7 separate regions of the Homo sapiens genome follow, and regions 2, 3, 4, 5, 6 and 7 are each linked to region 1. A link means that fine-mapping ties the variant in region 1 to the plasma level of a protein whose gene starts in the linked region. Region 1 holds a variant in brackets. A gene starts in each other region. All regions are shown on their forward strands. Region 1 overlaps LINC02356 (long intergenic non-protein coding RNA 2356). Region 2 holds the start of TIGIT (T cell immunoreceptor with Ig and ITIM domains). Region 3 holds the start of CD274 (CD274 molecule). Region 4 holds the start of SLAMF7 (SLAM family member 7). Region 5 holds the start of DAG1 (dystroglycan 1). Region 6 holds the start of PLXNB3 (plexin B3). Region 7 holds the start of RRM2 (ribonucleotide reductase regulatory subunit M2).

Evidence for each region. A credible set is the group of variants that fine-mapping cannot tell apart. PIP is the posterior inclusion probability: the model's chance that the variant is causal. Protein levels are from antibody-based Olink assays in UK Biobank. Linkage for the fine-mapping came from a reference panel and not from the study's own genotypes, which makes the PIPs less certain.
Region 2: TIGIT starts here. The variant in region 1 is the best candidate, but not a certain one, in a credible set for the plasma level of the TIGIT protein (UK Biobank, PIP 0.51).
Region 3: it holds the start of CD274, and the variant in region 1 is the best candidate, but not a certain one, in a credible set for the plasma level of the CD274 protein (UK Biobank, PIP 0.50).
Region 4: SLAMF7 starts here. The variant in region 1 is the best candidate, but not a certain one, in a credible set for the plasma level of the SLAMF7 protein (UK Biobank, PIP 0.77).
Region 5: it holds the start of DAG1, and the variant in region 1 is the best candidate, but not a certain one, in a credible set for the plasma level of the DAG1 protein (UK Biobank, PIP 0.51).
Region 6: PLXNB3 starts here. The variant in region 1 is the best candidate, but not a certain one, in a credible set for the plasma level of the PLXNB3 protein (UK Biobank, PIP 0.56).
Region 7: it holds the start of RRM2, and the variant in region 1 is the best candidate, but not a certain one, in a credible set for the plasma level of the RRM2 protein (UK Biobank, PIP 0.55).

What each region holds. Positions count from the first base shown.
Region 1 is chr12:111,387,094-111,391,158 of GRCh38, forward strand. The region is part of intron 2 of LINC02356 (long intergenic non-protein coding RNA 2356); the gene reads left to right. Among named protein-coding and RNA genes, the nearest start is that of SH2B3, 17 kb to the right of the region's middle. The variant A/AAATT (reference allele first, on the strand shown) is at 1,580.
Region 2 is chr3:114,291,592-114,295,654 of GRCh38, forward strand. TIGIT (T cell immunoreceptor with Ig and ITIM domains) reads left to right here and starts at 2,437. Exons shown (of 4, transcript NM_173799.4): 1 at 2,437-2,531; 2 at 3,954-4,063. The coding sequence starts at 2,471. RefSeq lists an enhancer at 1-635.
Region 3 is chr9:5,448,409-5,452,473 of GRCh38, forward strand. CD274 (CD274 molecule) reads left to right here and starts at 2,134. Exons shown (of 7, transcript NM_014143.4): 1 at 2,134-2,188. RefSeq lists enhancers at 1,911-1,960, 2,251-2,410.
Region 4 is chr1:160,736,774-160,740,838 of GRCh38, forward strand. SLAMF7 (SLAM family member 7) reads left to right here and starts at 2,474. Exons shown (of 7, transcript NM_021181.5): 1 at 2,474-2,583. The coding sequence starts at 2,529. It overlaps LOC124904440 (a long non-coding RNA gene), which reads right to left and starts at 2,386. Exons shown (of 2, transcript XR_007066687.1): 1 at 2,310-2,386.
Region 5 is chr3:49,469,262-49,473,322 of GRCh38, forward strand. It overlaps DAG1 (dystroglycan 1), which reads left to right and starts at 1,006. Exons shown (of 3, transcript NM_004393.6): 1 at 1,006-1,172. RefSeq lists a silencer at 685-1,424.
Region 6 is chrX:153,761,975-153,766,030 of GRCh38, forward strand. PLXNB3 (plexin B3) reads left to right here and starts at 2,275. Exons shown (of 36, transcript NM_005393.3): 1 at 2,275-2,330; 2 at 3,497-3,606. The coding sequence starts at 3,562. It overlaps PLXNB3-AS1 (PLXNB3 antisense RNA 1), which reads right to left. Exons shown (of 3, transcript NR_199696.1): 2 at 1,736-1,875.
Region 7 is chr2:10,121,200-10,125,264 of GRCh38, forward strand. It overlaps RRM2 (ribonucleotide reductase regulatory subunit M2), which reads left to right and starts at 1,540. Exons shown (of 10, transcript NM_001034.4): 1 at 1,540-1,698; 2 at 1,784-1,858; 3 at 2,188-2,331; 4 at 2,537-2,653; 5 at 3,518-3,651. The coding sequence starts at 1,600. RefSeq lists enhancers at 1-213, 262-817, 575-644, 665-774 and silencers at 995-1,594, 1,001-1,501.

The DNA.
Region 1 (4,065 bases):
CATATGAATGGAATCAACACTACGTGTTTCTTTGTGACTGGCTTTGTCTCTTAGCATCGTGGTTTTGAGGCTCATCCCATTGTGGCATGTATCAGTCCTTCTTCTTTTCTATGGCTGAATCATGTTCCCTTGTATGGATACCCTAATTTTTTTTTTTTTTTTGAGACAAGATCTCATTTTGTTCCCCAGGTTGGAGTGCAGTGGCACAATCATGGCACACTGCAGCCTCAACCTCCTGGACTCAAGCAATCCTCCCACCTCCGCTTCCTGAGTAGCTGGGACTACAGGTGCATGCCACCACTCCAGGCAATTTTTTTGTTTGTATTTTTTGTAGAGACAGGGTCTCACTATGTTGCCCAGGCTGGTCTCGAACTGAACTACTGACCTCAAGTGATCCACCCACCTTGGCCTCTCAAAGTGCTGGAATTACAGGTGTGAGCCACTGCAACTGGCCAGATATGCCACCTTTGGTTTATCCATCCATCCATCCATTGAGGACCGCAGGGTGTCTCCGTTTGGGCTACTGTGAACACCCAGGCATCTTTGTGGCTGGGAACAGGAGAGGTGTGGAGAGCAGACAGTGAGTCAGAAGAACTAAAAAGGGAAATTTGGGAACTAGAACTGGGCTTTGGCCACCGAGATCAAGTCCTGATTTTACCTCCAAACCGTGTCTTGAATCCATCACTTCTCCATCTCTGCCACCACTTCCCCATCCCAGGCCACCACTATCTCTCCCCAGGTCGGTTACTGCAGCCTCCCTTCCGGCCTCCCTTCTGCCACTCCCAACTCCCTCATCCCCAGGGTTCATTCTCCACTGAGCAGCCGAGGGATCCTCTTAGAACTTTCATGAAATCAAGTCATGGCACCCTCTTGCCCAAAGCCTTTCCATGGCTCCCCATGGCCTTGGGAGCAAGTCCAGACTCCATCCCATGGGTGACAAGGCCCTCCTTATCCTGGCTGCTGGCTACCCCTCAAGCCTCTTCACACATGGTTTACTCTCCTCACGCTTCGCTGCAGCTGCCTGGCCTCCCTCTCTTCCCAGAGTGCGCCAGGCTCCAGGCCCTTGCATGTGCTGGTCCCCTTCCCAGGAGGCTTCCTCCTTCACTCAGCCACCCCTCATCCTTTAAGTGTTCACTCAGCCATTGCCTCTTCCAGGAAGGTCTGTGACCCCAACCCTTCCCCTCCCGCTAAGTCAGAGGCCTTCGCTGCTTCCCATTAGCCATTCTTTCAACCAGTATTTACTGGGCACTGCTTTGTCCCAGGCACCAGGGATAGAAGTTAAAAAGACAGGCAATGGCCAGGCACAGTGGCTCACACCTGTAATCCCAGCACTTTGGGAGGCCAAAGCAGGCGGATCATTTGAGGTCAGAAGTTTGAGACCAGCCTGGCCAACATGGCGAAACCCCATCTCTACTAAAAATATAAAGGTAGCCGGGCATGGTGGTGCTTGCCTGTAATTCCGGGGTTCTCAGGAGGCTGAGGTGGAAGAATCACTTGAACCTAGGAGGCAGAGGTTGCAGTGAGCTGAGATCATGACACTCCACACCAGCCTGGGTGACAGAACAAGACTCTATCAAAA[A/AAATT]AATTAAACAATTAATTAAATGGTTAGTTTTGCAGGGCATGGTGGTTCACACCTGTACACTGGGCTTTTTTTTTTTTTTTTTTTGGAGTCCCACTATTCAGAGGCTGAGGCAGGAGGATCACTTGAGCCTGGGAGGCCGAGGCTACAGTGAGCCATGATCCTGCCACCACCACACTCCAGCCTAGGTGACAGAGCAAGACTCTGTCTCTAAATAAATAAATAAATAAATAAAATGGTTAGTTTTGCTGGGCGCAGTGGCTCACACCTGTAGTCCCAGCCTCTTGGGAGGCTAAGGCAGAAGAATCACTTGAGCCCAGGAGTTCAAGACAATCCTGGGCAACATAGCAAGATTCCATCTCTATGTAAAAAAAAAAAAAAATAGTTTTATGTTATAGGAACTTCACCTCATTTAACTTATTATTTTTTTAAAGACAGACAAGACAAGTGCCCCTGCCCTTCCTGACCAGAGGGGAAAATAAGTAAATAACATTCGTACAGTCCATGAATTGAAGTTAAGAGCCCAGGAGAAAAATAAGCAGGGCAAGAGGATATGAATTGTTCATGAGGATGGGTTGCAGGGCTTGTCATTTTACTAGGAGGGGACCGAGGAAGGCCTCCTTGAGAAGGCAGCCTTTGAGCAAAGACCTGAAGGAAATAAGGGCACAAACCATGCAGATGGCCAGGGAACAGCGTTGTTGGCAGAGGGAACAGCACATGCAGAGGCCCGCAGGCAGGAGGCCATGTGGCTGCAGCAGAGAGGAGGGGAGAGGAGAGATGACATCATGGAGGCCTGTGGGCTTTTCTCAGGAGGTTGGGAAGATGTGGCAGGACCCACAAAGGAAATGAGAAGATACAGCCAGTGACATAGGAGAAAAACCAGGAGAAGCCAATTGCAGGTCACGTATCTGGGCTTGATAACTATGGATGTACCCTTGGCGGGCTTCTCCCCACATTGGAAGGCAGGTCCAGGAAGGCAGGGGGTTTGGTCTGCCTTGTTCACCGCTGTGTCTCAGCACCTGGCAGTGCCCAGGACATAGCAGGTGCTTGGTGACGAGGATATGAGTCAGTGGCTGACCTGGTGTCCCCTGGCCCCGCTGTTTGGCATCCAGATCTCAGTCTCTGGACTGATGGCAGTGATGCCCCTCTTCACCTAGCCACCAGCAGGGGCAGATGGTGGTCCAGGTGGGATCTGAGGCGGAGCTTCCTTCCACCATGGCCACCCCACCCAAGAAGTGGGCTGAGCCAGCCACCCACAAGAGGGAACCGAAATCATCCTCCACCACAAACACGCTGGCCTGGCTCCACACTGGGCAGGACATGGAGGAAGGGGGAGCGATAGTGAGGGCCAGAGTCCCTCCACTTCAAGGGTCCCCTTCCCCTGGTATATACATGGGAAAAAGGAGACACCAGCCAAGGGCTGGGTTGCTGTGTGTGAGTGAATTTTGCTGAAGTCCCAAAGACCTGGAAGGTCCTGCCGGCTCATCCCCTGCCTCAAGTGCAGGGGTTTTTGTTGTTGTTGTTGTTTTAATTTTTTTTTATTTTTTTATTTTTTTGAGACAGAGTCTCACTCTGTCACCAAGCTGAAGTGCCGTGGCATGATCTCAGCTCACTGCAACCTCTTCCTCCCGGGTTCAAGTGATTCTCATGCCTCAGCCTCCCGAGTAGCTGGGATTACAGGTGTGCACCACATAGCCTGACTAATTTTTTTTGTATTTTTAGTAGAGACAAGGTTTCGCCATATTGCCCAAGTTGGTCTCAAACTCCTGAGCTCAGGCAATCTGCCCACCTCGGCCTCCCAAAGTGCTGGGATTACAGGTGTGAGCCACCACACCTGGCAAGTGCAGGATTTATGAGTCCTGCTTTAAAAGGTGGCACATGAGACATGGTGGCTCTCACCTGTAATCCCAGCAGTTTGGGAGGCTGAGGCGGGAGGAATGCTTCAGGCCAGGAATTCAAGACTAGCCAGGGCAATATAGCAAGACTCCCTCTCTACAAAAAATAAAAATAAAAATTAGCTGGCCGTGGTGGCATTCACCTGTACTCCCAGTTACTTGGGGGACTGAGGCAGGAAGATCACTCAAGCCTGGAAGGTCGAGGCTGCGGTGAGTGATCACGCCACTGCATTCCAGGCTGGGCGACAGAGCAAGACCCTGCCTCAAACAAACAAACAAAAAAAGCTGGCATTGGCAACTTCTCCCTTTATCCTTTTGTCCCTCCTTTAAGGGAGCCTCTCATTTCCCCCCAGACCCCTGCCACAGACACCCAAATTCCTGGACATTTTCTCCCAAGGGGCAATTTCAATTTCTAAATTTCACCTGCTCAAAGCAACGAAGAGGTATTGCCTGGGGCCGGGGCTGTGTTTATTTGACATGGTGCCTCACTGTGAATCCTCAACCCAAAGCTCCGAGATGGTGAGTGAGGCACCAGTGTTCTCACAGGAAGAGGCAGAGCGGGTGCTAGCCTACTGGTCACCAAAGCTGGTGTTC
Region 2 (4,063 bases), not on the chromosome of region 1:
TAAAGCACAGTGGCTGATTTTAGCATTTTTAAAATAGAAATGTGAGTCAGCACCTGATGGACCTCACAGATCCCTGCTATGCCACGAGGGCTGCTGACTGGCCTTAAAAGCTCAGGGTGGCCCGGGGAGCTCTCAGAGCAGGCCTGCTTCTCACAGCTGAGCCGCTCAGTGCTGGGGGCTGGTGTTGAGTGGGTGGGAACCAGCCAGGTTCCCCGTGGAGTCTGTGCAGGAGGCTCTGGAGGGTCTGGGGTAGATTCCCTGGGGAGAGACTTCTGTCATTTGCTTTCCTCCAAGGCAGCCTCAGGGTCTAGCTGGCAAGTGGTCACTTTCCTGCAGAAACATGCTATCCTCCTGTTCTATCAGATAAGGAGGGCAGAATGAAGAGGTTGGGTGGAACCCTGGCCTTGGAGTCTGGAGACTAGGATTTTACTCTTGACAAAGCACATTATATAGATAGGGATATTGTCCTCCAATTTTCCTTTCACTTCCTTAATTAATATTGTTATCAATACTACTGTTGATGTATTGAACTCCTGCCATCTTCCAGGCACTGTGCTGAACACTTCACCAAACACTAGAGAATTAAATCCTCACAACCCTATGAAAGAGGTACTCTTATTCCTATATGCACATGGGGAAACTGAGCCTTCAGGAGGTTGAGAAAGTTTTCCAAGGTCACCAAACAGGATGACTTTGGACCCAGTCTGTTAATCATCCCCCTCTAGAGCACCATTGATCAAAATGGACTTGACCATATTCCTCTTTGGACTGGTTACTTAGCAAAAAACAGAAAAATTATTTAACAATTGTTTAAAACCACCTCTAAGTTTCTCTGGATATCTCATTATATAAGAGAGGTCTCACCTCTTTGGCTCCCACCCAGCTCAACTATGGAAACACAGGCTGTAAATTTTTATAGCCCAAATCCTAGTGTCCACCACTTTCTGTGCTCTAGTCCCACTAGCTGCTCTTGGCCCTGCCACTCCTGGCTCCCCGGCCTTAGTGAGTTTGGGAAACATCCCTCCAGTTCAACCTTGGCACCTTCCCTTGGACACACATTAGGTATTATTTCTCCTTCAGCTGAAGGCTTTGTAGCTATTGAAAGGCAAGGCATCTCTTGATGTGAGCCTTGAAGGACAGGTTGCTTTGGGTAGGCAGAGAGAAGCTGGTAAGGCGTATATTGTCTAAGGGTCTGGAGGTGGGGTATAAGGGGTATACAAGTCATAGAGTTGGGGATAGGCAGAACCCAGAGAGGGGAGAAAACTGGCCTGAGATAGAAGACCTTGCAAGGGAGAAGGAGGGTAGGAGCCTGGATGGTGTGAAATGCTAGAGGTGCATGGCTGGAATGGAGGGGGTGGGGCACCAGGCTTCAGATGCTTCTGGGTGCAGATGCAGATTTTCAGGATGTACAACATGGAGCATCCCCAAGGCAACTGTGTTGAGAGCCTGCGAGGCAGGTGAATGTGGATCTTCTACCCCCTCTCCTGACTGAGTTCACCAAGGAACAAGCTTTGTAAACTATTTGAGGGTAGGGGCTGTGATTATTTACTCTCATATCCTCAGAGCCTGGTGTTGAGGTTGGTGCTTTGTAGGCACCCAGGGACTTTCAAATGAATGAAGGGAGGGAGGGAGGAAAGAAGGATGGGTCCATAGTAGGACCTGGTGATGGGCTGGGAGCTCCAGGCAAATGTCAACCAATCCCTCTCCTGGGTCAGCTCCCAGGGGCTCACCCTTCTTTGCATTTCCAGCTCTCATGAGGTCATTGTGCACAGGAAAGCTCTCTCCTCTAATCTCCTCTGATCCTACTGCACCAGAGAAATCAAGCCAGAATTCAATAAAGTCTCAGTCCAGATAAACAAGACAAAAGAAATAAGATTCGAGTAGAAGATCTCCTTCAAGGGAAAGTTGCTGTGTTTGTCCAAGACCTTTGTCCCATCCATGTATCATCCCCCAAGTAAACACTTCTTGTTCACCTGTTCATTAGATTTCAAGTGCAGTCCCTGGCCTGTAAGTCCCTACAATGATAAGCTTCTCTTATCATTGCACATTCTTCATCAGGAGGATGCCAGAGGAGCTCAGCCAACAGTTCCTCATCAGTAGCAGATTCTTCAGAATCTTGGGCACTACACAGATGCCCTTGAGCTCTTTGAATAAAGGCTGATTTTTAGAAAAAACATTAAGACAGAACTTAAAAACAATAGATTGACTATAATCCAAAGACGAGTGTACCTCTAACCACAATTTTCATTTATTTTTAAATGTTTCCTTCATGGCCTTTCTTGTGGCTCACCCTATGCAGTTTGTGTATTTGTTGACAACTTTATGTGTTTTTAATATGGTTTTTGCCAAACTTGGTTTTTCCGAGACCGTCTTTTCTCAGAGGCTCAGTTTTACCGTCCTATCTGCAGTCGGCTACTTTCAGTGGCAGAAGAGGCCACATCTGCTTCCTGTAGGCCCTCTGGGCAGAAGCATGCGCTGGTGTCTCCTCCTGATCTGGGCCCAGGGGCTGAGGCAGGCTCCCCTCGCCTCAGGTAAGGCCTGAAACCCAGCAGAGCAGCAGGGAGGAAAAACAAGGCTAAGCTTGGTTGGAGACTTGGGTGCTTGTGTAGGGAAGACTCCAAGAGCATGCCACAGCTGCTTGAGAGAAAGAAATTGCAACTTTTAGAGTCCTGTGTACTCTTATTTAAGAAAGGACAATCTCTGAGAATGAGGTGGGGTTCTGTTTTTGGTGGCAGATGAAGGACTTTGCAGACTTCCGGGGTTGGAGGAGCCTGACTGGCCAGCACAAGAAGGAGCAGGAGAAGAAGAAGGGCTGGGCAGGAGGCATTGCCAGTTTGCTTTTAGAAGCTCATTCCTGCTCCAGCTTCTTTTCTGTTGCCTTTCAGGAACTTTCCAGGAAAACATTATAAGTTCTCTGTGAATTGAAAATGTCTTTTTCACAGATTCCAGAGGTTCTACCACTAGAGACTGATTTTTTGTTAAATTTATTTCTTCTATATTAAAAATCAGAGTCAAATATTTCTGAGGGAGGGGAACACAAATATTTAAAAACTGTGGTATAAATTAGTTTTTATGTTGCCTTCTGAACTATCTGAGGATGGAGATGTGCCCAGGGTTGCTGGGGAGAGGTTAAGTGCTGAGAGGGTGGTTATGCCTGGGAGAAGCAGGGTTTCCTGCTAAGCTTCCTTTGCTATTGGATTTCTTGGCTTTCCTGAAGGTTTTTTCAGGCACTGCAAATGACAATCAACCAAACAGCAAGGTTTTATTTCAAAGGATAATGCATCCAGCATAGAACTAGGCCGCAGGAAGAAACATAAAAACAAAACAAAATAAAAACAGAAGAGGTGGTATCAGCTGACAAGGGCTTATATTCTAAGTGGGTAGACAAAATAGGCCTACGAAAATAACAAGCTGGCCATGAAGCTACATAGCAGAATATGCGAGGGGGCAACGTGCTAAGTTGTGTAGTCATAAGCCAGGCATTTAGTAAGGTGCTAATTATACAATACAGGCAGTGAATGTGAAAGGAAAAGGGAGGTTGAGATGGGCTGAGGTCTTCTAGGAGGCGGGGAGGGAGTGCAGCCTTGACAAGCCTCCCTGTGGGCGAGGTGTAAAGAGGGGCAGAAGTCAGCTCTGGAAGCATAGGGCAGTGGGTGGGGAGGAGATGGGCTGGGCTGGGCTGGAGTAGAGATGTGTGGAGAAGGGTGAGAAGACTGGAAAGACAACCTGAATGGGGGACTGGGAGCCTTGAATAACAGGCATGGAGAGGAGCGTCTCTTGAAATGGAAGAAACAGGAAATAATTACAGCCTCTATGGAGGAGCAACAGGATGGACTGGAGAAACTATCATTCCAAAATCCAGTTGGGGCCTCAAAGGCCCTTAGAATTTTTCTAGGAAGGTTGAAGGCCAGCTGCTGACCCAGGACTCACATGTGCTTCGTCCTCTTCCCTAGGAATGATGACAGGCACAATAGAAACAACGGGGAACATTTCTGCAGAGAAAGGTGGCTCTATCATCTTACAATGTCACCTCTCCTCCACCACGGCACAAGTGACCCAGGTC
Region 3 (4,065 bases), not on the chromosome of region 1:
ACTGCTCTTCTCCCATCTCAGCACTTCTCCATCTATTTCGTCCAAATAAAAAAATTCACACAGAGTTTCAGGACTTAACCCCCCACTCATTAACCATCTGTTTTGCTTTACATATTTTTCTGAGGTAATAAAATTTCTCTTTTTCTAAACACAGCCTGTTTTTCAATCTCCGGGTAGTTGATCAATTGTATGGGAAAATGAATGGCTGAAGGGTAGAAACAGGTGGGAAAGATGAACAAAAACACGAATCCTCACATTACTAATACGCAAATCACTGAGCAGCAAGCTGAGCAAATACCCTCAATTCCCATCAGCAACTTTAGAGAAAGGCAAATTCCGTTTGCCTCATTGATCATTTAGGTAGACCCTGAACACTGCTTTCATAAAACAAAAACAAAATACCCATCCCCAGTTTAAAAAATTATTCATAGATCATCCAGGCCATCTAGGAGGATATGATTTAATCCTGGCTACTTGGTAAATTATTTGCCCAAGTTAACTCAGCTAGTTAGTGGTAGATGGCTCTGAAGCCAGTTGTTTTTTTTTGTTTTGTTTTTTGCAGACCTCAAGAGTCATGATGAACTAGCAGATCATAAAGTTTATGCCCTGGGTCTTGACCATTTTTAGAAAAATAAAACATTAAATGAAAATATCAGAGGGCATTGCAGATAGTAGATCTAAGTATTTTTTCATGAAACTTGTTGTACATGTGTGTGTCATACACAGACTATATATATGCAGTACCTGTAAACTGTATTGCCACATAATGTCTATATTTTCCTAGAGGTCACAGTCACCAAAGTTGGGAAGTCACCCAACTTCGGGAACTTTGGGAAGTCACCCAAACTTACAGTCACCAAAATTGCTCTATTCTACTATGTGACCTCAAAAGTGATTTGAAAGAAGGAACATCTGAGCTGGGCCCAAACCCTATTGCAATTTTATTGGGGCCAAAGAGAACTCCATGCTCCTGCCAAATCAAGGCAGTGTCAGCCTCAATAATTTCCCAGATAAAAATAAAAATCTGTGATACAATCAGAATGTGAAAATTCTTATTTTGGAAGCAAATGTCATAACCAATGCAAGGGCTATCTCAATATTCATTCATTATGCAGTATTTTGAACTGCAGTTGAAATGAATAAGAAGGAAAGGCAAACAACGAAGAGTCCAATTTCTCAATTTAGAAAAAGAGAAAAAAAAGAAAAGGGAGCACACAGGCACGGTGGCTCAAGCCTGTAATATCAGCACTTTGGCGGATCACTTGAGGTCAAGGAGTTCGAGAAAAGAGAGCACCTAGAAGTTCAGCGCGGGATAATACTTAAGTAAATTATGACACCATCGTCTGTCATCTTGGGCCCATTCACTAACCCAAAGCTTTCAAAAGGGCTTTCTTAACCCTCACCTAGAATAGGCTTCCGCAGCCTTAATCCTTAGGGTGGCAGAATATCAGGGACCCTGAGCATTCTTAAAAGATGTAGCTCGGGATGGGAAGTTCTTTTAATGACAAAGCAAATGAAGTTTCATTATGTCGAGGAACTTTGAGGAAGTCACAGAATCCACGATTTAAAAATATATTTCCTATTATACACCCATACACACACACACACACCTACTTTCTAGAATAAAAACCAAAGCCATATGGGTCTGCTGCTGACTTTTTATATGTTGTAGAGTTATATCAAGTTATGTCAAGATGTTCAGTCACCTTGAAGAGGCTTTTATCAGAAAGGGGGACGCCTTTCTGATAAAGGTTAAGGGGTAACCTTAAGCTCTTACCCCTCTGAAGGTAAAATCAAGGTGCGTTCAGATGTTGGCTTGTTGTAAATTTCTTTTTTTATTAATAACATACTAAATGTGGATTTGCTTTAATCTTCGAAACTCTTCCCGGTGAAAATCTCATTTACAAGAAAACTGGACTGACATGTTTCACTTTCTGTTTCATTTCTATACACAGCTTTATTCCTAGGACACCAACACTAGATACCTAAACTGAAAGCTTCCGCCGATTTCACCGAAGGTCAGGAAAGTCCAACGCCCGGCAAACTGGATTTGCTGCCTTGGGCAGAGGTGGGCGGGACCCCGCCTCCGGGCCTGGCGCAACGCTGAGCAGCTGGCGCGTCCCGCGCGGCCCCAGTTCTGCGCAGCTTCCCGAGGCTCCGCACCAGCCGCGCTTCTGTCCGCCTGCAGGTAGGGAGCGTTGTTCCTCCGCGGGTGCCCACGGCCCAGTATCTCTGGCTAGCTCGCTGGGCACTTTAGGACGGAGGGTCTCTACACCCTTTCTTTGGGATGGAGAGAGGAGAAGGGAAAGGGAACGCGATGGTCTAGGGGGCAGTAGAGCCAATTACCTGTTGGGGTTAATAAGAACAGGCAATGCATCTGGCCTTCCTCCAGGCGCGATTCAGTTTTGCTCTAAAAATAATTTATACCTCTAAAAATAAATAAGATAGGTAGTATAGGATAGGTAGTCATTCTTATGCGACTGTGTGTTCAGAATATAGCTCTGATGCTAGGCTGGAGGTCTGGACACGGGTCCAAGTCCACCGCCAGCTGCTTGCTAGTAACATGACTTGTGTAAGTTATCCCAGCTGCAGCATCTAAGTAAGTCTCTTCCTGCGCTAAGCAGGTCCAGGATCCCTGAACGGAATTTATTTGCTCTGTCCATTCTGAGAACCCAAAGGAGTCCTAAAAGAGGAATGGAGGAGCCTAAGAATAAAAATAGTATAATAAAACATTTCTTAGACACATTGACCTTGGCCTATGTCAAAGTTCAGTCTGGGTTTGTCTTATAACACAAGGAGTAAAAGTACCATTGTTCTACCTCTTTTTTTAATACTTGAAAAAAATTTACTGTGGATGCTTTTCTATGAATTAAATAACCTTCTAAAAAATGTTTTCATTGCTGCATTCGATTAGATTGGGTAACTAAATGAAATTAATTCCTCACTGTTGGGTATAAAGGTTATTTACAGTGGTTCTGTCTTAGCCATTCACTGAACTCATTGCATATATATCTCTGGAATATTGCTGATTGTTTCCTTCAAGTAAACTTAGAAGTGTAACTACTTAGTCAAAGAGCCTGAATATTTTAAAGGCCTTTTGAAGAAAACTGAAAATGCTTTCCAGAAAGGATGTATCAGTTGACAATGACAGTCGTCAACAGTATTTAAGGAGAACTATGATACTCTGAAGAAAAACTTAGCCTTTCTCAGTAAAAGTAGGTAGGCAGAGGCCACATGACAGCAGTTAGAGTGTGGTCTTCAAGGAAGTCACAGAAATACTGTGGGGAATTGAAACCCCATGTGGAAAATGTACAAGAGTGTCTCAGTGTGACTGAGAAGGAGGTTGGGCATGGGGTTTCATGGAGTTTAATAAAGTTTGGTCACTTAGTAGAGGTTTAATAAATCAACTGTCTTAATCTTTGATCCTACTTAAGAATTTTTTTTTTGTTTTTGTAGAGATGGGGCTCTTGTTATGTTGCCCAGGCTGTTCTCGAACTCCTAGCCTCAGGCGATCCTCCCTCCTCAGGCTCCAGAAGTCCTGGGATTACTGGCGGGAGCCACCATGCAGGCCTCTTGCTCCTACTTTTGAGAAAGGAAGTTTAACCGGTTTTTTTTGTCTTTTTTTTTTTTTTTTTGAGACAGAGTCTCACTCTGTTGCCCATGCTGGAGTGCAGTGGTGCAATCTCAGCTCACTGCCTCCCGGGTTCAAGTGATTCTCCTGCCTCAGCCTCCCGAGTAGCTGGGACTACAGGCACCTGCCACCACGCCCAGCTAATTTTTGTATTTTTAGTAGAAATGGGGTTTCACCATATTGGCCAGGCTGATCTCGAACTCCTGACCTCAGGTGATCCGCCTGCCTCGGCCTCCCAAAGTGCTGGGATTACAGGCATGAGCCACTGCTCCTGGCTGCTTAACTTTTTCTCTATCTCATCCTCCTACCCATCCTACCCTTGGAAGATAGAGAAGTAGTATTAGTTCCATAGTGTTATACTGGGCTTCCCCCAGGGACAAACCCACTTCCCCAACCTGAATGAGCCATCACTTCTTCCCCAGTTTACATTTCAT
Region 4 (4,065 bases), not on the chromosome of region 1:
AGTGTACTTGAAGATAAACAATAGAAAATACCCAATCTGAAAACAGAGTGAAAATAGGCCAAAAAAAAAAAAAAAAAAAAAAAAAAATGGAGCCTCAGAGCCCTGTGGGAGAAAAACAAAAGATTTATAACATTCATGTCATCAGAATTTTAGGAGAGAAGCGAGAATGTGAGGCTGAAAAAAAAGTATTCAAAAAATAATGAAATTTCCCCAAACTTAGCAAAAGGTAAAAACCTACAGATTCAAGAGACTCAATGAATCACAAATAAGAGAAACCCAAAGAAATTCACACCAAGACACATTATAATCACACTTCTGAAAACTAAAGACAAACAAAAAACTTTTAAAACAGCTAGAGAAAAATGACACATTACCTACAGGGAAAACAACTTAAATGACGGCTGATTTCTCACTGGAAACCATGGAGGGGAGGAGTGTCATGACACTTTTCAAGTGTTGAAAGAAAAAAAACTGTCAACCTAGAATTTTATACCCAGGAATGAGGGTTAAATCAAGACATTCTCAGGTGAAGGAAAACTAAGATAATTTGTTATCAGCAGGCTTATCATAAAAGAATTCCTAAAGAATATCTTGAAACAGAAAGAAATGATTAAAGAAGAAAACTTGAAGGCTGGGTGTGGTGGCTCATACCTGTAATCCCAGCACTTTGGGAGGCCAAAGTTGGTGGATCACCTGAGGTCAGGAGTTTGAGACTAGCCTGGCCAACATGGCGAAACCTGATCTCTACTAAAAGTACAAAAAGTAGGTGGGCATGGTGGCATGAGCCTGTAGTCCCAGCTACTCAGGAGGCTGAGGCAGGAGAATCGCTTGAACCCAGGAGGCGGAGATTGCAGTGAGCCAAGATCATGCCACTACACTCCAGCCTGTATGACAGAGCAAGACTTCGTCCAAAAAAAAATAAAAAGAAGGAAACTTGAAACATTAGAAATAAAGAAATAACAATGAAAAGAGTTAAAATATGGGTAAATGTAATGGATTGTCCTTCTCCTCTTGAGTGTTCTGAATTATGTTCAACAATTGAAGCAAAACTTATAATCTTACCGATATGGTTCTCAATGAATATAGACAATATATTTAAGACAAGTATAAAGATAGACTAATAAAGAAACCTAATATAGGTAAGTTTTCTATACCTAGTTCAACTGGTAAAATGTCAACACTGATAGGTAGATCAAAAGTTATGTATGTAAAATGCAATATGTACAGCAACCAGTAAAAAAACTCTTCAAAAAGATACATTATAGATAAATCAAAATGGAATTATAAAAAATATTCCAGTAACACACAGGATGGCCAGGAAAGTGAAACAGAGGAACAAAATAAACAAACAAAAGCCCAGAAGAACAAAGAGAAAATAATAACATGGCAAACTTAAGCTCTGATATATAAATAATTACATTATGTAAGTCAGTTAAATAGAATAGATAGCTCCAGAATATACCCACACAAGTATAAGTGCTGATTTTTGATAAAGATACAAAAGTAATTCAATGTAGGAAAGATCATCTTTTCCATCACATGGTAGTAGAACAATTGAACACCCACAGGCAGAAGAAAAAAAAACACGCACATTGTAATCATACTTCTGAAAACCAAAGGCAAACAAAAAACTTTTAAAACAGCTAGAGAAAAATGACACATTACCTATAGGGAAAACAATTTAAATGATGGCTGATTTCTCACTGGAAACCATGGAGGGGAGGAGTGTCATGACACTTTTCAAGTGTCGAAAGCAAAAAAAAACTGTCAACCATATTACCTGATATGGTTCTCAATGAATATAGACAATATATTTAGGTGAATCTCAACCTAAACTTCACACCTTACATTAAAACAGGATCATACATTTAAATGTAAAACATAAAACTATAAAACTTTCAGGAGAAAACCTTTGGACCCTAGTGTGGGTAGAAAAAAAACTGATAAGTTGAATTTCATCAAAATTAAAATTTTTGCTCTGCCAAAGACCCCGTTAAGAAGATGAAAAGACAGGCTACAGACCAAGAGAAAATATTTGTAAACCACATATCTGACAAATGACTCTTATACTTGGAACATATAAGGAATTGTCAAAGCTCAACAGTAAAAAAAATAAAGAATCTGATTATAAAATGGACAAAAGACATAAATAGACATTTCACCAAGGAGGATATGGATATATAGATGGCAAATAAGCACATGAAAAGATGTTCAACATTATTAGGCTTTAGGGAAATGCAAATTAAAGCCACAATGAGGTATCACTACAGCACCTATTAAAACAGCTAAAATATAAAATGGGAATATACCAAATGCTGATGAAGATGGGGAGCAAATAGATCTCTCATAGATTGCTGGTGGCAAGGTAAAATGCTCTATTCACTCTGAAAATAATTTAGCAATTACTCAATCTCACATGTCTGCGGCGTGACCCCTCCTGCTTCTTTAAATATCAGCTGGGGAAGAGGTCTGAGTAATACCTAAGAGGGAAGTGGCTTCATTTCAGTGGCTGACTTCCAGAGAGCAATATGGCTGGTTCCCCAACATGCCTCACCCTCATCTATATCCTTTGGCAGCTCACAGGTGAGTCCGGCCGGATTCTCTTCCACTCTCCTGTCTACCCCATCCTGAATAGTTCCAGGTTTCTTGTTCCACTCTGGGCCTCTGGCTCAACTCGGGAGGCTCTGTGTTCTCATCTAACATTTGCTTTTTATCAATCTCTGATCTCTGATTCTCAGGTCAGGAAGAGACTAGAGAGAGGGGGAAAAATGGCTCTGGGAACTGACTCCCCTGTTGACTGTCCCAGGGATGAAGGAGCTGAAAGAAGTGGTGCTGGGTATCAGAGACCATTTTTCTAATCCAGGTTCTGCCATGAGTTAGATAAGGAATGTTAAAGTTTTCCTGGGCCTCAGAAACTTTATCTTCTAGCCTTCTCTCCTTTTGAGGGCAACTTTAAGAACAAGATGATACTATACAGGTATGTATTTATTTACTTATAAATGTATTTATAAAATTGGTTATGCATAACAGTAATATAAATGGAAAGAATCACTTGAATTTTCTTTCCTTACTCAAGCAATGTAATCAGTCTCTACTTAGAGAACCAACTCATACCATAGGCACTTTATGTTTAATCCCATGGAGGACAGAGGACAGTTCTCCACCTGTCACTGGTATTCTAGTCTTTGAAGATTTTTCTATCCTAAGGGCTCTCAGAAAGGATCAGGAGCCCTATAAGTGAGAAATATCTCTTCTGTCATCAATCTCATGGAGTACTACCATGAGGTCCCCCTATAAGGACTTCACATAACTGCTTCATTATGTGTATCTGAGCCTGCCTGGAGTGATCTGCCCAAGACCACGCAGGCAGCTGGTGCCCCCAATATTTTCCCCTGCATCGCTAAGTGGTCAGCATCAGCAGACTCTTACCCACTTTGAATTCATCAGAAGTTTGTATTTTTGAGAGGTACCTGGGTCTAACCAGGTGGTTCTGGAATAGGCCCTCACTTTAAAAAAAAAAAACAAAAAAAAAACTCCCTGAACGGAAATGATGAGCAGAAATAGAACTTGAGGGAGATAAGGTGGAGGGGTTGGGGAAAATTATAGAGACTTTGAAAGCTACAGGTGTCCATCTGAAATCAGTCAGCGAAAGAGCACAAGTATGAAAAACTGCCATGCAGGTCCCCCTCTGCCCTCCTCCAGAGGCAGCCTGTGTAGTGTACCTCCTGAGGCTGAAAGGAGACAGAGATTGTCCTGGAACTTCCAGTGGGCAGGGCAGTGGAACAAATCCTGGCACTGGACAAGCGCATCCTTGGTTTGACTTAGTAGCTGTATTATTGTAGGCAAATTACTCTTCCCTTCTGAGCCTTGCTCTTCTCAGGTGTGTAACAGAGAATGAAATCTAAGTTGCAGAATTATTGTGACATTTTAAATGACATATCAAATGCAAAATAATTATTAAAATAATCACCATTTATTAAGTTACTACATCGCAGGTGTTTTTCATACCACCTCCTCATGAGTCTGTAAGACAGATATCATTATCCCTGTTTTACAGTTGAGGAA
Region 5 (4,061 bases), not on the chromosome of region 1:
AGGAGGGAATGGACCCATCCTGCGCATGGTGTGGGGATGAGAAGCAGAGCCCACCACGGGTCTCATTCCCAGACCCATCCGGTAACTGTCAGTTTCAGTAACTGTGAAGTCTGGGGCTTTTGGGGTGGGGGGCTGCAGGTTAAGTCCTGGGGAGAGCTAGAGCTACCTTAGGACCCTCCCCTTGAATGTTCCAGGCAGCAACCCCCCTCTCTTATTTCTTCCCCCACCAAAAGAATGCAGGCCACTAGGAGTGAGTGACCAGCGCCTGCGAGTTAGAGCTATTTTGGGCAGGAGAGCAGGCGTCGGATTCCAGTGTTCCAGGCAGGGGGAGGGGACGAGGGTTAGGCCTGAGGCGCTTTCCGACTCCCCAGCCTGCTGTGGGCGAGGCTCTAGGAGATGAGCTAGCTTCCCGCTCCTCCTGTCCCTGGCCTCAGTCTCCCATCCGTGTAAGGGCCGGGCAGCAAGGCTTTCATCCTTTGCAATTGAGAGAACGCTTCCTGATTGTTCTCATGGCTTAGAAATACCCCTTGATTTGCATTCGAAGGAAATAAGGAGGGCTGAACGCAGTCGACGGGTGGCCAGTTGCTGGGCCAGTTCGCAGTCCTGACTGTCCCTTGATTAGTCTTAGAGGCCCAAAGGCCTGAAGTTGGGCGGGGAGCCCCTCCCCCACACTACTGGTTCTGAAGGCTCCGAGTGACCGGGACCGACCGCCGGGGTGTGTCCCGGGACGGACTTCCCTGGCCGTGGGGGCGAGGCTTCCATAATGGGGCGTGACTTTTAGGGCGGGGGAGTGGCTAGCCAATGAGCAGAGAGGTGCTGGCCGGGGCGGGGCTTGCGCGCGGGTGCGGCGCGCTGCGGAGCGGCCGACGCAGGCAGAAGCCGGCGGCGCGCGGACAGCCAGTCGGCGCCGCGCGGAGCTGGCCGCTGGATTGGCTGCAACACTCGCGTGTCAGGCGGTTGCTAGGCTCCGGCCGCGCGCCCCGCCCTTGCGCTCAGCGCCCTCTCACCGCCCGGTACGTGCTCGCGCGAAGGCTGCGGCGCGGCGCTCGCGCCTCTTAGGCTTGGCGGTGGCGGCGGCGGCAGCTTCGCGCCGAATCCCCGGGGAGCGGCGGTGGCGGCGTCCTGGGGCCAGGAGGAGCGAACACCTGCCGCGGTCCTCCCGCCGGCGCTGGGTGAGTGCACCGCCCGCCCTATCCGCTGTGCCTGGCTGCTTGGGCCCCCATCCCTGCTGCCGGCTGAGCCTTCCGCGGAACACCTGCTGCTGCTCGCTGTTCGGCCCGGGGCGGGGACACGGCCGCGGACGTCCTTGTGGGTGAGGAGGCGGTGCCGCCCGGGCGGAGCCGCCCCTTTGCTCTGGGTCCCGCAGGCAAAGGCTCGGAGCGTTCGGCTGCAAGGCCCGGGCCGCGCGCCGCGGCGATGGGCCAGGCCTTAGCTCGGCCCGCGCTCCCGGGAACGTGGAGCCTGCGCCTTGGCCGCGGTCGTGAGCCGCCTGCGGGCCGCCTCCCTGGCTTCCAATAGGGGTTGTGGCCCAGTTGGGCCGGATTCCGACTGTGGGGAGTCGAGCCCCGCTAGAGGCAGGGAAGGGCACCGCTGCCGCCACTGCTCTGTCAGAGCTGCTCAGAGCCTTGGTGGGTTCCGTCATCCTTACTTGAGCTCCTTTGGAAGCTTGTTTACTTACTACCTTTTCACTTTGTATTTGGCAGACCTGGTTCACCTGCGAGTGTATTTGGATAGTGTCTCCACAGAAAATGTCGTCTCGGCTTGGAATCTTTTTGCCATAAATTCTAAGTTAGTTTCCTACAAACTCAACTGGTAACTTAAAATGCATCCTTTAATCTCTATAACTTGAAAAGTTCTTATTTTTGTAAATCGAGTTGCTTCAGAATTAGTTTTAATGGTGACGATGAAGTTTTGACTGGTTGAGGCAAGAGCCTGGGACAGCACCTTCATAGCGCAGAGTCTAACTTAAGATTCTAGCCTGCTGCTTCCCTAAATAAGCGAGTAGAAGTGACTCCTGGCATAGAAGCCAGACTCCGTGAAGGGAAGGTGGTGTTTATAGGACATAATTCCAGATAAAGAGCTGGATGTGCTTTCAGGTGTTTTGCAAAGTCTGGTGTAGATGGGGTATTGCAGTTTTATCAGGTTCTATGCTTAGTTAAGTTCAGAGACATTATTTTGGAATGTTCCTGTTCTAAAAAAGAATTCAACCGTACTACATTTTGGAGGCATAAAAATCCATAGTTTGAGTATGGAGAAGTTTAGTTGAACTTTTGTGGGTTTTTTTTGCTGTGAACTAAGGAAGAAGAGCTCATGGCCTGTGTCCTGTATTTTGGAGAAATCAGATTTCAGTAGGGAGTTGGATCCATCATGTGAAGACCCTATGGGATATAAAAGCTTGTGCTGACATGTGCTTTTGTTAAAAGAGGCACAGTGCAAATCCTCACTGTTCTTAAAAATTGATTTTGCAAAATGCATTTATTCATTTGAACAAATATTTTGATTCACTACCTGCCAAATTCTGTGGTAGATCCTAGGGACCCATGTAAAAGAGTCTGCTTCTGCCCTTAAGGAATTCAGTTTAGGGGGCAGTGGGGACCAGGGAACCCATGATTAATAGTGTCTGCCCGCTAAGCGTGCTCACATAGTAGCCTGAGGAGAGAGGGAATTCCTGAGCTGTGGTTTTCAGGGCCAGCAGGAATTAGTGGGGGACATCAAGGCCTGGACACAGGGAACCACATGTACATGAGCACCTAAAATAGTGCTTGGGAGTCCTCCAGCTTGGCAGGTGCGAGCTCTGGGCCTGCCTTGTGCTCAGGAGTTCCAACTTTGTATGCGGGGTGCAGGAGTCTGGGGAGCCTTTTAATCAGTAGAGTGGTGTGACCCAGACCTGTGTTTAGAAAGATATTGCTGGTGGAGTGGCAGGAAGAGGGAGGGGGTCAGGACCTCTGGCAGTTAAGTCAGCTAACAGAGGAGAGGTGGGGAGGGAGAAGGAGCCATCAGAAAAGAGAGACTGAAAAGGTAGTACAGAGGGGATGTCCTGCCATGATGGGGGAGGAGCTACATTCTGGAATGCATGGGCCAGAAGACCAAGCATAACCAAGGATTTAAATTCCTTGTTGACTACCTGGTATAGTGACCTACAGAGTTGCTTGTGTCTGGTTAGTGTTGAGGATGGTGGGATTTGGAGGGACCACTTAGGGACCACTTAGACTGCCGTCGATGCATAGGAAAGGAGGCCTGGCATTTGATTATTAAAAACTTTATCGCCGGGCATGGTGGCTCCCACCTGTAATCCCAGCAGTTTGGGAGGCCGAGGCGGGCGGATCACGAGGTCAGGAGATCGAGATCATCCTGGCTAACACGGTGAAACCCCCTCTCTACTAAAAATACAAAAAATTAGCCGGGCGTGGTGGTGGGCACCTGTAGTCCCAGCTACTCAGGAGGCTGAGGCAGGAGAATGGCGTGAACCCGGGAGGCGGAGCTTGCAGTGAGTTGAGATAGAGCCACTGCACTCCAGCCTGGGCCACAGATCGAGACTCCGTCTCAAAAACAAAACAAAAAACAACTTTATCTCCAGGCAGGGCGTGGTGGCTCACGCCTGTAATCCCAGCACTTTGGGATTCTGAGGCAGGTGGATTACCTGAGGTCAGGAGTTCAGGACCAGCCTGGCCGACATGGTGAAACCCCGTCTCTACTAAAAAATACAAAAATTAGCCAGGCATGGTGGCGGGCGCCTTTAATCGCAGCTACTCGGGAGGCTGAGACAGGAGAATCGCTTGAACCCGGGAGGCGGAGGTTGCAGTGAGCTGAAAGCCTGGGTGACAAGAGCAAAACTCGGTCTCAAAAAAAATAAAAAATAAAACAAAACAACTGGCCAGGCGCGGTGGCTCACGCCCGTAATCCCAGCACTTTGGGAGGCTGAGGCGGGTGGATCACGAGGTCAGGAGATCAAGACCATCCTGGCTAACACGGTGAAACCCTGTCTCTACTAAAAATACAAAAAATTAGCCAGGTGGGGTGGCGGGCGCCTGTAGTCCCAGCTACTCATTCTCCTGGAGGCT
Region 6 (4,056 bases), not on the chromosome of region 1:
CAGCAGTGGCAGTGGGGGTGTCCGCTGGGATGCCAGCATGGAGAGCTACGTCTTCAGCCCAGCAAACGTGAAGCCCACGTCCCACTGACCCAACGAGTCCCCTTCCAGCATTGAGAAGCCTGGCACACAGCAAGGAGACGACACCAGATCAGTTGACGCTGCCTTCCCATCCCTTGGTGAGGGGACCCGGCCATTGCAGGATAAATCCAGCACGACTCCCCTGACATAAGATGTTCCGGTTCCCCAAACCAGCCTAGATCCTTTCTGGTTACACCAGCTTCAGACCAGGGGCTGCCATAGCCACGCCTCTTATCTGCTCAGAAAGCGTAGAAGGTGCATATGCAGGCCATATACACACATATTTATGAAAATGGTGCTGCCTGTGGATGGATTTATTTTCTTTTTTCTTTCTTTCTTTTCTTTTTTTTTTAAAGACAGAGTCTTGCACTGTCACCCAGGCTAGAGTGCAATGGCACCATCACGGCTCACTGCAGGCACCAACTCCCAGGCTCAGGCGATCCTCCCACTTCAGCCTCCCAAGTAGCTGGGACTACAGGCTCGCACCACCATGCCTGGCTAATTTTTAAATTTTTTTATAGAGATGGGGGTCTCACTATGTTGCCCATGCTGGTCTAGAACTCCTGGGCCCAAGTGATCCTGCTGCCTTAGGCTCCCAAAGTGCTGGGATTACAGGCGGGAGCCACGACGCCCAGCCTGATTTATTTTCTTCTGTGGAAAGGAAGGAGAAACCCATTCCCCATGCCAGATTGCAGGCGTCTGTCTCATCCGGGGCCAGCAAGGACATGTGTGTGTGTGTTGGGGTAGGCATGGGGGGAAGGACAGGGAGAGGGAGAGAGGCCAGCTGGCTCCCCCAAGCCTCCCCTCCTGGAGCTTCTAAATCCCTCCCTGGCTCCTTCAAGGCTGCCTGGCCTTCCTGTTGGGGAGAGACCCCTCGCCGGCTGCTCACTCGCTTTTTGGTGGTCCTTCCCACGGGCCTGCCTGGTCTGCCTCCACATCCTCAGCGGCTGCAGGTGAGAAGCTGTGGATCTGGGGCCCAGTGGTCCAGAGCGTGGCCCGTGCCAGAATGCCCAGGTTCAAATCCCATCTCTGTGGAATGCACTCTGAAGAAACGACGTCAGGTCATGGCCCTGGGCAAGTTACCCACCTCTGTGCCCCATTTCTCTCCATGCAGGTTGGAAAGAATGACACAGCTGCTCAGGGAAGCACCCATACCCCGAGTCTGCTGGGCCTTTGAGCTCCAGGGCCAACACCTGGCCCTATACCCTGGCCGCCCCCAGGGCTCCAGCCACCTGAGCCAAGCTTCTCACCCCCAGGCCTCCCCAGCCCCATCACCATTTCCTCCTCCCTCATGGGCCCCTCAGTCTTACCGTCCTCCCACTTCCGCCAGCCCCTCTGTGGATGGCCCTGCCACAGGGGGAACAGTGCCCCAGCAGAAAAGCCCCAGGGTCGCCTGGATTCTCCTGCCTTCGCCTCCTGCCCTGGGTCCAACGCACAGTCTTCAGAATGCTGCCTCCCCAGAGCGCCTCTAGAACGCGCCCGCCTCTCTCCATGCCCATGACCACCACTGGACCAGGCCTCCCCACATTCTCTGCCCCAGTGCCACCAGCTTGCAGTTGCCCATGGCGAGACAAGTTCAAGTTCTCAAGCCTGGCCACAAAGACCCCACCTGATTTGCTGACCTCCGCCACACCCTGGGAGACGGCCCTTGACCAACCTTGTGTTCCAGTCGGTGGGAAACACTGGTTTTTCCTCAACGCCACGTGGGCATGTCACGTCCAGGCCTGGCCTGGGGTAGGCCTCAGCTCCATCTCCTGCCCAACGCCTGCCAAGGTTCATGGTTCAAGGTCATGTAGCCTGACGGTTAAGTGAAGGGGCCCTGTGATTGACTCAGCCTTGCCACATACTAGCTGTGTGACTTTATTCAAGTTTCCTAACCTCCTGTGCCTCAGTTTCCCAACCTGTGTTTGTTTCTGGATGGTGCCAGTGCCAAGCCCAAGCCTGGCATCCAGTAGGTGCTTCGTGCCAGGTTATGGAATGCCCACCCAATAGGAGGGCGCTGCCGTCTCTCACCTGCCAGGTGCCCACGGTCAGTACTCCATCATGCCCGCTGCGGCCAGCAGAGGGCAGCAACATCCTGCCCTGTGCCATTGGGCAAAGGGGCGGGCGGAGAGAGGCTGGGCTGCCTGGCCGGGCTTGTTGGGATGAGTCGGACTGGGCACGATTGCATTGTGGGGAGGGAGGCTGGGGCTCTGTGAGACGTGCTCCTGGCACCGCCAGCTGCTACTTGGCCCTCGCCGGTGGCCCACCAGGTAGGCAAGAGCTGGGGCAGGCTTGGGCTTGGGCTTGGGGTGCAGGGGCTACCAGCCTCAGGGCAAGGCATCAGGGTCTCAGGGCCAACTGGCTGGGGTCAGGCAAGAGCGCTCGGGTGTCGGCCCAGCCTGACGACGGCACTAGGTGTCTGGGAGCACGGTGTCCCCCAAGTGGTAGCCCTGGGGTTAGGAGGTGGGGAACCATGTTTCTTCCCCGAAATGGGAAAGCCAACGCCAGCCTCGGGCAGGGTACAGGGTAGAGAGGCTGCCCGCCTGGCTCCCCACCCCCACAGCCACCCAACTGGCCCAGCCAGGTGACAGCAGCCCACTGCCACCTTGCCCTGGAGCCTACTGCTGCCGTGCTGTGGGGGAGGCAGAGACCCCATCCCCAGTGCACCTGCTCCTGTGCCACTGGCCAGGGTGGCCTGTGAGGGTGACAGGGGGTCTAGCTGCTAGGTGCCCCTCCCTTCCCCATCCCCTGCATGGATGGCATCTAGGCCAGCAGGACGGTGCTTCAGAGGGTGGGGTGGACAGCCCCGGCCTGTGGACCCTCTGCCTCAGCCCATCTCAAGCAGCCTCCTCCCGTGGTCCTGCTCGCTGCCACCATGCTGTACCTGGCACCACTTCACCAGTCCCCAGGGGCAGGGCTGGGCTGGGGGTGTGGAGGAAGATCTTTTGGACAAAGGCAGGCATTGAGGGCCAGGACTGGCACTTCACCCAGGCCCCAAGGCTACCAGCCGGCATTTGCAGGGGCTCCAAGGTCCACCCCGTGCCCTTCACAGGGACCCGGGGAGCCAGGGAGGGGCATGCTTAGTGACACAGGGGTTGCAGGGCCAGAGGGGGAGGGCTGGCTGGAGGAAACCCCGGCCCTTTGTCCCCGGATCCCGGGGGTGGCTCCCTGAGGGTGGGAAGTGGCAAGGAGCCCCCTGTCCAGAACAGCCCAGTGGGGGTGACAGCACTAGCGAGTGGGGCCCTGGCCTGGCCTCTGGACAGAGGGAACATTGTTGTGGTGGAGGCAGGGCTGCCTTGGCCTGGCCACTATTGACAAAGCTGCCAGCTGTGAGGGAGCCCGGTCGCTAGGCCCTGGGCGCCACCCCCACCGCCGCCCCTCCTTCCCCAGGCCAGCTCGAATGGGGCTGAGCCTCGACTGTCTCCCTCCCACTCAGGACAATGCCCCCCCGCAGCCATCTCATGCCCATCGCCACTGCCCTGGGGCAGCTGAACTGAGCGTATGTGCCACGCCGCCCAGGAGACCCCTCTGCTGCACCACTTCATGGTAAGTGCCCAGGCCCGGTGTCCCCAGAAATGTTCCTGGGAGGGGCAGGGTAGGGCAGGATGGCTGTGGCCAGGCCCAGGACATACAGGCTGCAGCCTCCCTCATGGCAGACACTGCCCCAGATAGCCCGGGGTCCGCAGGAAGTGTCCGTGCTCTTCCTGCCTGTGTTCCTGAGATAAGCGGCTCCTGGGCCTTCCTCCAGGCGCTGCTCTGCCCTGAGTCGCAGCGGCCCCACTCCTGGTCGGCATGTGACCACACACCCAGGGCAGCATCTCTCTGTGGAGGGCAGGAGGGGCCAGAGAAGGGGCTGCTCCCACCTCTCACCCTCGGGGGCTCACCCCGGGGTCCCACCAGGCACACCCAGGAACCATCTCCAGTCTGGCACCCCTCCCTGCCCCTTCCCTGACCCCTCCCCCAGCCAGCTCTCCTGGTCTGCTCTTCTCCTGGGAC
Region 7 (4,065 bases), not on the chromosome of region 1:
AATACTATGATTTACAAGTCCGTAGTACTTTTAAGAAATGAGAGAAACAGACCTAGGTGGGGAGGGTACCTGTCCCACCCCACCCTCTTTAAAGTATCTTATCTAGAAAAGGCTTTGTGAAAAAAAAAGTCCCGGGTCTCTCTCAATAACAGCCCTGAGCGCAGCTGTTGAAGCTTTCTCAGGTTAATGATTTCTTTCTTGGATCTTAAAGTTTCTTTCTCTTCCTTTATTTTTGGCATTTTGCCCGTTGCAGGGCCTGGCAAATCAGAAAGCCACATAGAAAATTAAATGAAAGCTATTGCTAAGTTCCAGTCTCTACACCAGTGGAGTTTTCAAACTCCTCTTCAGCATATTTGACGCCCAATGAGTAGTACATTAATTCCTAGTCCTAAAATCATTCTGTGAACTTTCTCCCAGGAATTTTTGCTCAGTTTGCAATTAAAACAACTTTTTTTCTTCTCTTTTTAATGGCAGAGGCGGGGTCTCACTATGTTGCCCAGGATGGTCTCCAGCTCCTGGCCTCAAACAATCCTCCTGCCTTGGCCTCCCAAAGTGCTGGGATTACAGGCGTGAGCCACCGCGCCCAGCCACAGTTTGCAATTCTTAAGGCAAGGGTGACAATAGGGGTCAGGGGTCTGACAGGAGACAGGATTTCTGTGGAAAACTGCACCAAGGGCCTTCTCGCCATGTCCCGTAGTTTGAAGGTTTACAAAGGACTGCACATTTTACATGAGTCATCTCAACGAACGCTCTCCTCACCGCATTAACAGTCCACGCGGTTACGAGTCCCATTTTACTCACGGGGACACCGAATCTGTAAGAAGCCTGGTCGCTTGTCCCAGCAAAACGAGCCACGGGGCTCAGCGGCCCTAACTTTTAGGCTGTAGGGTCCTCGCCGACCACCCCGCCAAAATGTCAGGCCTCGGGGCCCTTGCACCCCCACCGCAGGGACACGGATCGAAAGGGTCGCAGCAACGCCTCCCCCGCACCCAGGAGCGTTTTCCAGGCCTTTGCACCAACCTCGTTGGCTAAGCCCCCTGCCCGGCGGCGGCCCGGCTGGGAGGAGGTGCTTTCGGGAGGCGGGGCCGCGGCCCGGGGATCCTCTCGCGCCCGCGGGCTCCAATCGCTGCTCCTCACGCAATCCTAAACGGTTCCCGGGCGAACCGGGGCCCGCGCGCGCCAAGGCCGCCGAGACCCTCAGGGGCTGCGGCCCTGGTCCCGCGGGACCTGTGGGGGCCTGGGCGGCGGCGCCCCCGACCCAGCCAGCGGACGGGCCGGGGGGGGAACCGGGAGGTCCCGGGGGGCGTCCACGGGGGTGTCCCCGGGGGTCTCCGGAAGGCGCCGGCGGAGGCTCCCGCGCTGCGCTTGAAAATCGCGCGCGGCCCCGCGGCCAGCCTGGGTAGGGGCAAGGCGCAGCCAATGGGAAGGGTCGGAGGCATGGCACAGCCAATGGGAAGGGCCGGGGCACCAAAGCCAATGGGAAGGGCCGGGAGCGCGCGGCGCGGGAGATTTAAAGGCTGCTGGAGTGAGGGGTCGCCCGTGCACCCTGTCCCAGCCGTCCTGTCCTGGCTGCTCGCTCTGCTTCGCTGCGCCTCCACTATGCTCTCCCTCCGTGTCCCGCTCGCGCCCATCACGGACCCGCAGCAGCTGCAGCTCTCGCCGCTGAAGGGGCTCAGCTTGGTCGACAAGGAGAACACGGTGAGCCCGCGGGGAGGGCGCTGCGGGCAGGGGAGGGAGGCAGGGAAAGCGAAGCCGCTCCTCACTCACACGCGTCTCCCCGCAGCCGCCGGCCCTGAGCGGGACCCGCGTCCTGGCCAGCAAGACCGCGAGGAGGATCTTCCAGGAGCCCACGGAGCCGGTGAGTGGCGGGCGTGGGGCAGAGGGGCCAGGGACGGCCTTGGGCGTCTTGGCGCCAAAGCCGCATTGTTTCCTCAGCTGTTCACACTCCCGCCCCGGCTCCTTTCCCGCCTAGGCGGCCCCTCCCCAGGGCTGCCTCCCGCGCCCCTCGGCCCATTTCCCGGTTCGGGCGTGCGCTCCTCTGCTGCGACCCACGGAGTGCGACGGGACAGCCACGTTTTCACATCGGGCCCCGTGAAATTGCCGCCAATGGAAAGGACTTGGTCCAGAAAAACGTTAGTTTCATATGGTTCGCCCGGTACTTAAATGTTTTATTTTCTCCCCCAACAGAAAACTAAAGCAGCTGCCCCCGGCGTGGAGGATGAGCCGCTGCTGAGAGAAAACCCCCGCCGCTTTGTCATCTTCCCCATCGAGTACCATGATATCTGGCAGATGTATAAGAAGGCAGAGGCTTCCTTTTGGACCGCCGAGGAGGTAATCGGAGGACCCCAGAAGACCCCTGCAGGGGTGACCGTCACGCCTCAGACATAAATGCACTTGGAGGTTCCCGTTGGCAAGGGGGGCTAACTGTGGGGCATAGTAAGTGGTGCCAGCATACTTAAAGTTTGAGTGCTCAGTGTGAGTCCTGTAGGCTTTACTCTCTTCCTTTTATGCTAAAATTGTGACTTCCGAACCTCAGGTGGACCTCTCCAAGGACATTCAGCACTGGGAATCCCTGAAACCCGAGGAGAGATATTTTATATCCCATGTTCTGGCTTTCTTTGCAGCAAGCGATGGCATAGTAAATGAAAACTTGGTGAGTTTCCAAAACATCTTTCATTCATTTGACGTTGACGATCTGAGGTCGAACTAGTTCGCTTTCCTCGTCTTGTATGTTTTTCCATGCTGAGTGCATCTGTGTGTGTAAGCTGGGTTTTATATTACATGGCATTTCCTGTTTTGTAACACTTTGCAGTTCTTTCTTATGGTATTTTCCCGACTCTAGAGAAGCTGAGACAATATTAAGTGGTAGCAATGTGATGACTCTTTGTGGCCACCACATCTGCCCCCTCTTTTTTTTTTTTTTTTTGAGACAGAGTCTCACTCTGGCCCAGGCTGGAGTGCAGTGGTGTGATCTTGGCTCACTGCAACCTCCGCCTCCTGGGTTCAAGCGATTCCCCAACCTCAGCCTCATGAGTACCTGGGATTACAGACGTGCGCCACCATGCCTAGCTAATATCTGTATTTTTAGTAGAGACAGGGTTTTACCATGTTGGCCAGGCTGGTCTCGAACTGCTGACCTCAGGTGATCCACCCACCTTGGCCTCCCAAAGTGTTGGGATTACAGGCGTGAGCCACCACGCCCGGCTCTGCTCCCTCCTTTTTGTGGCTTTGCTGTTTTAATAATAATTTGGTTGTATCTCTTATTGCGAATGGATCTTTCTTGACATAAATTAATTAGGAAATCGAGCGCTCACAAATCCTATTTTATATGTATCTATTTCCTGATATGTAAGTTGAGCATATGACATAAAATATCAAAGAATTGTGACAAATTGGATGAAATATATATAGAAATAAACCTTATAATGGTACAAAGAGTGCGATGCTGCCAGTATCCGTTGACAGTTGCTGCTGTTGGTTTTTTCTCAAGCTTAACTTTGATGTGTTTTGCCACTAGGTGGAGCGATTTAGCCAAGAAGTTCAGATTACAGAAGCCCGCTGTTTCTATGGCTTCCAAATTGCCATGGAAAACATACATTCTGAAATGTATAGTCTTCTTATTGACACTTACATAAAAGATCCCAAAGAAAGGTGAGTATTCAAGTGGTATGCCAAGATTTTTAGGACTCACTAATTGTTGATTTATTACACATTTTTAGTTCACCTAGGGATAAAAATGACTCCAGAATGACTAAGACAGTCATAGGCATTCCCAGCACCCGTGGTCATGTCTGCTCTTAGCAAGGGGCCTAAATGCACTTTATTATTCACTTAGAGTTGTGAAGGTACTCCTTTTAAAGTTGGATGTCTACCAATGTAAAACCTTCTTTTGAAAAAATTCCTAGATGTTGGGTAAGACAAACTAAAACCTATGTCTGACCATCTTTGCTCATTTGGTAAAGTTGTTGAGAAGCTAGAATGTGGGGCTGCAGTGGGATGGACGGGGAGGACTTGCCTCCTAAGAAGCCTGCAGTATAGTATAGGCAAATAAGACTTAGTAGGAGT